2 separate regions of the Homo sapiens genome follow, and region 1 is linked to region 2. The links come from fine-mapping of genetic effects on gene expression. A gene starts in region 2. The other region holds a variant in brackets. All regions are shown on one strand. Distances are between the middles of the regions. Region 1 holds the start of KLK13 (kallikrein related peptidase 13). Region 2 holds the start of KLK11 (kallikrein related peptidase 11).

The links. PIP is the estimated chance that this variant, and not a neighbour inherited with it, causes the effect.
Region 1: its variant is the best candidate, but not a certain one, in a credible set for the expression of KLK11 in pancreas (GTEx, PIP 0.79).

The regions. Positions count from the first base shown.
Region 1 is chr19:51,061,279-51,065,662 of GRCh38, reverse strand. KLK13 (kallikrein related peptidase 13) reads left to right here and starts at 571. Exons shown (of 5, transcript NM_015596.3): 1 at 571-647. The coding sequence starts at 596. The variant C/T (reference allele first, on the strand shown) is at 1,744.
Region 2 is chr19:51,024,407-51,028,790 of GRCh38, reverse strand. KLK11 (kallikrein related peptidase 11) reads left to right here and starts at 2,175. Exons shown (of 6, transcript NM_001136032.3): 1 at 2,175-2,253; 2 at 3,125-3,199; 3 at 3,997-4,153. The coding sequence starts at 3,160. RefSeq lists enhancers at 864-1,420, 1,980-2,537, 2,538-3,096.

The DNA.
Region 1 (4,384 bases), 37 kb before region 2:
CGCTCCTCGTGGGCCCCTCACTCAGGTAGGGTCTGCCTGGGGCGGGGGCGGGGAGCGGAGGAGGGCAGGGAGGGGAGAGAAGAGGGGATAGGAAGGATGGGGAAAGCAGAAGGGCAGCTGAGTCAGGGAGAGGGAGAGTGAAGCTAGAGTCTCAGATCTAGAGAGAAACCTGCAGAGACGGAGAGAGGCGAAGGGCGCGGACAGATAAGAACTTGGGCTAATACCAAGCGTGTGGACAGACCCAGAGGGGTAGAATGGAAGGCAGACTCTGGAGGAAAAGGGCGAGAGTGCACCGACCACCCAGCTCGCCAGAGGGCAGGGGAGGAGGGACGGCTTCCTGGGGTGAGGGGCTGCACGCCGGAGCCCCAGGAGGTTGCACACTGTTCCTCCCACCTCGCCACTGCACCCCCACCAAGGATGGAATTGGAGGCGGGGGGCAGATTCCAGGGTCAGGGCTGTCAAGAGTGAATGAGGCGAGGAGACATTCAGGAGCAGAGAGGTTTCAGACGCGGAGGTTCCGGGCACGCCCTCAACACCCCCTTCACCTTCTCCTCAGGCCCCGCCCGCCCTGCCCTCCCCTCCCGATCCCGGAGCCATGTGGCCCCTGGCCCTAGTGATCGCCTCCCTGACCTTGGCCTTGTCAGGAGGTAAGAATGCGCGGGGGTGGAGGCGCGGCGGCCATTCGGGACAATGGTAGGAGGGGTCAGGCCGGAGGGGGAGGGGGCGTGGGAGCCGCGAGCTCCGCCCCCCGCCCACTCGGGGCCGGGTCCAGTGGGGACAGCTCAGAGCTCTTCCTGCTTGTCCCTGGGTGACCTGGTTTCCCGGCTGAGGTTGGCCCTCCGACCCCAGACCCTTCACCTCCCAAAATACCCTCGCAGCAGCCCCTCCCGCGTTCAAGGCTTCCTGTCCTCTCTGGAAAGCTGAAAGACATGGGTTCGCGTCCTGACGCTGCCGCTTTGAGCCAGTAGCCTAGCAGCTGCTTTGTGCCTAAATTGTTTTCATCTGGAAAATGGGCTTAATCTATAAGTGCTTACCAGAGAAGGTCACTGTGAATATTGAAACGAGGTAATGCGTCGAGCCTTCAGTATGTCGCAGGTAGAAGGGACTTGAAAGTTAGCCACTTAGCCGTTATTACTTTATTAGTAGTATTCCTTTTTTTTTTTTTTTTTTTTTTTGAGATGGAACCTTGCTCTGTCTCCCAGGCTGGAAGGCAGTGGCACGATCTTGGCTTACTGAAACCTCCGCCTCCCGGGTTGAAGCGATTCTCCTGCCTCAGCCTCCCGAGTAGCTGGGATTACAGGCGCCCGCCACCACGCCCAACTAATTTTTGTATTTTCAGCAGAGACGGGGTTTCGCCATGTTGGTTAGGCTGGTCTCGAACTTCTAACTTCAAGTAGCCCGCGTCAGCCTCCCAAAGTGCCAGGATTACAGGCATGAGCCACCGAGCCCGGCCTCTAGTATTCTGTCTTCATACTCAGCCCCTTCCAGAACCTTCTAGATTGTTATTTTAATCCTTGGGTTGACCCCAAACCTATGTGACCTCACCCCAAATTGGTAGTCCTTAAGATCCTTATGGATCTTTCCCATCTTTCCCTGCCGTTGTAGGCAGGTTCTCTGGAAACCCCGTTCATGAATCATTTATTCATTCAACAAACAGCTATTAAACACCGGCCACTGTGCTGGGTGCTGTACAAGCAGAGACACAGTCCCTGCTCTCAGCACCTGGAGTCTAGCGGGGACAGA[C/T]GCAGATGTTATTCAAACAATTATCCAAATAATTAGTTAATAATTATCTTGACATGAGGTGAAGACTTCAAGGAGCCAAGCCAGGGGCCTAGAGATGTAATGGCGGCTTCCCGACCAGAGGCCTTCCCAAAGGGCTTGACCCTTGAGCCAAGACCTGAAAAAGGAGGGATCTGTGGGTGCCTGGCACCTGGCACCATCCTTGGCCTGAAGGTGGGGTGGCTTTTCTCCTCTGGCGACACTCCCTGGATTCATGCCCGTGCCACTCCTGAGTGCCACACCCTAGGCTAGGAGACCCACACGCTACGCCTTGTGGAGTCCTCAACAACCTGGCGAGGTAGGTGCATTGTAATTACTCCAATTTCATGGCAGAGAAACCTAGGACTCAAAGACAGAAGGCTCCTGCTCCAATGACACCGGCGATGCCTGAGTCAGAATCCTAATCAAGGTTGTTTTCCCTGTCCATATCCTGGACTTGAGGCTCTGAAAACCATTTTTATAACTTTTGACCTAATCATTTGCTTAAAGTTAGCTTTTTTTCTTCTTTTTTCACTCAAACAAAAGCATGTTCAACTTTATATTACTGTCCTGAATAGAGAATAGAATTCTTTGTCATAAATAGAAGGTAAGGAAGGAAATAAATCCTGCACAATGAAAAGAAAATAATATGTTTATTGGGTTGGACCACCTGAAATTGCTGATACTTGACCCTTTTTGACCTTCCTAAAACAACTTTTGCAGATGGTTCAGTGTAATAAATGTTAGGTGGCCTGATGAGGCTTCTGTGTCCTCCTGGCTTTGAAAAGTGAGCTCAGTGAGGATTAGGGAGGTGTTAAAACCATATTAGCACCATCCTGAGACTTTATCCTTGACAAAATCAGGTTTAAAAGAGAACTGGATGCTGGTTCAGCGTCTGAGTGTGCGATTTAACGTTACTTAAATCTCATCTCTCTACCATCTAAAATGATCCTGTGCTCACCGACAACTTCTGTCCCTAACTGCAAACCACTGAGCTAATCCAACTGCTTGCCCTGTAGTTGGGGAAACTAGCTAGGGAGGCAGAGGGACCTCCTGTTGTAGCTAATAATTAATAATAACATTTCCCACTGACTGAGTGCTCTCCATGCCACCTGCTGTGCTGCACGGTTTGAAATGCAGGATCATCTTGAATTCTTCAACTGCGCAATGAGAGATGAACTATTACTTTTTCTACTTGACAGCTGGGGAAACTGAGGCTGGTGATTTGCATAAGGTCACACAGTCACAAAATGGCATGCATGTTCAGGATTGGATTCTCCCTGTCCCACGGACCCCTGCTGTGCTTTCAATGCCAGACACAGTGCCTGGCACACACAGCATTTATTTATTGAGCCCCCATTGTGTGCCAGGCGCTGTGTTAGGTCCTGGGAATATGGTACTGAATAAAGCAGTTAAGGTGCCTGTTGTCAATGGAGCTTACAGTCAAAGTGGAGAGATTTTTAAAAACGAATACATACAAATGTGAAGAGAAATGAATAGCAATCATTGTTCTGATGAAGACCAACTGGAAGAATGTAATGGGGGAGGAGTCGGGACCAGGAGAGTCAACATTAGACCAGGTGGTCAGGGAAGGCCTTTCTGAAGAGGAGACATTTGAGCTGACCTCTCAGAATTAAGAAGGACCCAGACATACAACCTCTAAATTCTGAGGGTCATCCAGTAGAATATTCCATATATGTATATATGAAATATCCTATATCTGTGCTGTCCAATTATCCACTAGCCCCTTCAGGCTATTGAACATTTGAAATATGGCTGGTGTGACTTAAGAACTGAATTTTTAATTTAGTTTTACTTCATTTTAATTAGTTTAAATTTAAATAGCCACATGTAGCTAGTGGCTACCATATTAAACAACATAGGTCTGGAGAAAGGACTGTGCAGAGAGAGGAAATAGCAAGTATAAAATGTCTAGTATGGGGGCATCCAAGATGATTTAAATTCTTCTTTTCTTTAAATGCCTGGTGTGTTTGAAGAACAGGCCCATGAGGCTGGACTAGAGGAAGTCAGAAGAAAGAGGTTGGAGATGGGGTCAAAGAGGCTGGCAAGGGCCAGACAGCACAGAGTCCTGCACACCTTGGGAAGGCTTTTTGGATTTTATTTTAAAGAAAGTTGAGCCTGGGAACAACATCTGACTTTCTTTGTTTGAAGAGTCCTCAGCCTACTTTGAGAAGACTGGATCGGAGGGATGTAAAAGTGGAAGGATTTAGGTTAATGTTGTAGTCATTTGGGCTACAGAAGATGGGGCATGGACCAAGATGGTGGCAGAAGTGTGGAGATAACTGGATATTTGGGAGATAAAACCAATAGGAACTGGTTGTGAGTGATGAAGGAAAGAAGAGAAGCAAAGATGACTCCCAGGTTTGGGGCTGAGCACTGAGGTGGGAAATACTGGAGCGAACAGTTTTGATTGAGAAGAATCAAGTTGGGAATACAAAGCTTAAGATGCCTGTAAGGCATCCAAATCAACAGTGTTTGAGTTTTGAGCTTAAAGAAGAGTTCAGGGCTGGAGATGATTAGCCTATAGCTGGTATTTAAAGCCATGGAGGCAACCAGTATATATGCAGTGAAAGGATAGAGAGATGGGTGGAAAGATGATTGGATG
Region 2 (4,384 bases):
CCGTGAGGCAGAGGCTGCAGCGAGCCGAGATTGAACCATTACACTCCAGCCTGGGCGACAGAGCGAGACTCCATCTCAAAAACAAACAAACAAAAAACCCAGTGCTCAAATAGGATGAGGGTCTTCCCTGAGTAGTTACTCAGAAATGGAGTAGAAAAAGTTACTTTTAATAATATAGGCCGGGTGCAGTGGCCCACGCCTGTAATCCCAGCACTTTGGGAGGCCGAGGTGGGAGGATGGCTTGAGCTCAGATTTCGAGATCAGCCTGGCAACACAGTGAAATCTTGTCACTACAAAAACACAAAAAATTAGCTGGGTGTGGTGGTGCGTGCCTGTAGTCCCAGCTACTTGGGAAGCTGAGGTGGGAGGATCACCCGAGCCGGGGAGGTGGAGGCTGCAAAGAGCCGAGATCATGCCACTGCACTCCAGCCTGGGCAATAAAGTGAGACCTTGTCTCAAAAACAAAAACCCAGCAATATAAATAAGACACATGTTTCTTCATCTGGCATAATAGAAATAGTGCCCAGAGCTTATAAGCTTTTCAAGAGTCCACAAAAGACCCGAAAAAGAAAAAGAAAATTGTTAGCTCCAAAATACCAGATGAAAGCTGCAAAGTCAACATTTATGACCATTTAATCCAATGTCCATAAAACGTAGCATTCTTTCCACTAGCCAACTGCAGTTTACTTTCTTGTAATGAAGCATACATTGTATCTTTAATGTGGGACGTGGCTTTGTTCTAATAAGACGAAGGGTGGAGTGCAGGCTTGGAAAGCAGGAGAGCTCAGCCTACGTCTTTAATCCTCCTGCCCACCCCTTGGATTCTGTCTCCACTGGGACTCAAGAGGTGAGGAGAGACCATCTCCCCAAATGCACTGAAGGGAAACTGGAGGAGGGAGGGAGTGAGGGGTGATCATACCAGCGGAGGCACATTTGCTGAGCCCCCCCGCAGTCTGCTCTTTCCAAGTGGACCCTCCTGGAAGCCTGATCCCAACCTCCCCTGCAAGCAGGTCTGTCACCCCCATCTCTCAGATGAAGAAACTGAGCCTTGCAGGGGTGGAGTCCCTTGTCCCCACGTCATAAGGGTAGTCATAGTAGTAGGAAGAGGAAGCACCTAGGTTTGAGGCCAGGGCTGGCTGCTGTCAGAACCTAGGCCCTCCCCTGCCTTGCTCCACACCTGGTCAGGGGAGAGAGGGGAGGAAAGCCAAGGGAAGGGACCTAACTGAAAACAAACAAGCTGGGAGAAGCAGGAATCTGCGCTCGGGTTCCGCAGATGCAGAGGTTGAGGTGGCTGCGGGACTGGAAGTCATCGGGCAGAGGTCTCACAGCAGCCAGTAAGTGAACAGCTGGACTCGGGCTGCCTGGGCGGCAGGGAGAAGCGGGCAGGGGAAGGGTCAGCAGAGGAGCGAGGCCCCAGAGGAGCCCTGGGGTGGAGCACAGCCAAGGGCTCTGTTCCCTTTCCTGGACTCGGCTTCCACAGGCCCTGACCTGCCTCCCCCACCCTCCGGTCCTGCCCCTGTGCCTGGCAGCAGCCCCACCTGTGTGACATCCCAGCACACCCCCCCTCTCCTTGCAAAGGAGAAGGGAGCGGCCTAGGGGAGGCCAGGGGCCCACCTGGGCTGGGGCTGTGGAGAGGGAGTGGCTGGGACGGGAGGAAAAAGAGAGACGGAGATTAGATGGAAGAAGAGGGATTTCAAGACAAATTGCCAGAGATGCAGTCAGAGAGACTGACTGAGAGACACAAAGATAGAAGGAATTAGAGAAAGGGCCACACAGAGCCAGACAGAGAGAGAAGAGTGGAGATGGAGACAGGGACGAGGACAGAGAAAGGCAGACAGACACATAGGGACAGAAAGAGAAAAATCACACAAAGTCAGAATTACTGAATGACAGGGAATGACACATAGAACGAGACACAGATTCAGAGACTCAGGGCAGGGAAAGGAAGGCTGCAGACAGACAGACAGACAGAGGGAGGCTGAGACACAGGGAGAAGAGGGGCTTGGAGAGGTGGCACAGGCAGGCAGCCAGTGCCTCAGAGGCCTCCGGGGAGGGCCCTCACACACACCCCGCCCCGGGGCATTAAGGCAGGGCTTGGAGGCCAGTCATCCTGGGCCCGCCCAGGGCCGCCCCCCTGCCAGCCCGCCTGCCTGGTGCCTGGCACCTGGCGCTCCAACCCAGCCTACCTGCTGTAGCTGCCGCCACTGCCGTCTCCGCCGCCACTGGGCCCCCAGAGCCCCAGCCCCAGAGCCTGTGAGTCCAGGAGGAAAGGGAAGCTGCCCCTCCCCGTCCAGGTGTCAGCCCTCCCCAAGGACACCTGTCCCACTCGGGCACCCATTTCTCCCTCTGCTCTGTCCTTCTCTGCTTGGGTGGGGGTTCCTGGCCTCTCTCTACACCTCTCACCTCCGATGGCTGTCCGCAGCCTCAGTTACCTCTAATCTCCATGGCTTCAGCTGCTGAGCTGGCCCTCTGCTCCCACCCCCGCTGGCCAGGGCAGCGGAGGGCACTGGCCCTCCCCTCGACCAGCCCCGCCCAGCTTTGCTTGGCTGTCCTTCAAAAGGGCAGGGGTTTGGCGGACAGGGCTTCAGCAAGCCGGGTGATGGGGGTCCCAGACATTGTCTGGGGCTGAGCCCCCTACTCCCCTCCAGCAGACCTCAAAGGCTCCATATCGCTCTGCTGCGAAGACAATGAAAAAGGGGTGGCTACGGAACGGTGTCTGGTTCCCCTTGTCCTTCCACCCCAAGCTGCTGGGGCCTGGCCAGCTCTCAAGGCAAGAAGGAAAACATCCTCTGACATGTGCCGGGGAGGTCCCATGGCTGACTTGAACAGGGCCGAACCATGGCTTGACAGCTCAAAGCCCCTCCCAACGACTTCCACATGGTTCTTGGTATCTCGGAAGCTTCTAGCTGTGACCAGGCCCTCTCCAAGGCCACCCTAGACACCTAAGATATATTTTAAGTGTTTGGAGATCTGAGTGCTGTGAGAAACAGGGGATTTCCCCAACCTTGTTTCTCCCAAGTGGGGAGCGGGAGCAGGTGAGGGAGAGAGGAGAGGGCATGAGCCAGCCCCCCCCTCCCGATTTCCCCGTAAAGTGATGCGGCCCCATGTCCCTCCTTGTTCCCAGAGGAACCTGGGGCCCGCTCCTCCCCCCTCCAGGCCATGAGGATTCTGCAGTTAATCCTGCTTGCTCTGGCAACAGGTACGCAGGGGATGGGGGCAGGGCAGGATCCTCCCTCTTGAATCTCTGGGATCCCCTAACCCTCTGTGTCTGGACAGTGACAGGGCTGATTCCAAATTACAGAACAACCCATAAGGCACCTGAACTGGAGCAGTGGTCATGAGGGCCTGGATGCCCTTCTAGATAATCCCTTTAAATGCCAAAGGAGGAGAGGTCAAGGGGGTCGTAAAGGGTCCCGTGGAGGGGCTGAGGAAGCTGGAGTTGGGGGAGCAGTCACTCAAAGCGCCCAGGACAGGGGCTACTGACCAACCAGTATGGAAGTATTTCCTTTTTTTTTTTTCCCAGAGACAAAGTCTTGCTCTATTGTCCAGGCTGGAGTGCCGTGGTGCCAACACGGCTCACTGCAGTCTTGACTTCCCGGGCTTAAGTGATCCTTAAGCCATCTCAGCTTCCCCGGTAGCTGGGACCACAGGCACCTGCCACCAAGCCAGGCTAATTGTTTAATTGTTTGTAGAGATGGGGGAGGAGGTCTCACTATGTTTGCCTAGGCTGATCTAGAACTCCTGGGCTCAAGTAATCCTCCCACCTTAGCCTCTCAAAGTGCTGGGATTACAGGCATGAGCCACTGCATTTGACCTTATGGAAGTATTTTCATCCTTTAATACCCGACCCCAGCATCCAGGGCAACCCAGAGGGACACCAGACCAGGGCCCAGACCACCCACTCTCTTTCTCTCCTCCCCACCCCCATTTCTGGGAGTCCTCCTGGTCTACCACCTCTCCTTCCTGAGCCCCTTCTTTTGCTCTCACCCCCTCCAGGGCTTGTAGGGGGAGAGACCAGGATCATCAAGGGGTTCGAGTGCAAGCCTCACTCCCAGCCCTGGCAGGCAGCCCTGTTCGAGAAGACGCGGCTACTCTGTGGGGCGACGCTCATCGCCCCCAGATGGCTCCTGACAGCAGCCCACTGCCTCAAGCCGTGGGTGCGGGGGCTGGGGCGGTGCCGGGGTGGGGGGCTGGGAATGGGGAGATGGATGGAGAGAAGCTCAGGGATAGGGGTGCTGGTAAGGGGATTAGAGATGGGGATGGGTAGTGTCAGCAAGGTTGATGGGCTCGAGTTGGTATTGAAGGTGGGGGGATGAATGGGGTTGGGATGGGGCTATGGCTGGGAAGGGGGCTTCGGTGGGAGACGTGGAAGAGGTTGGAAGCA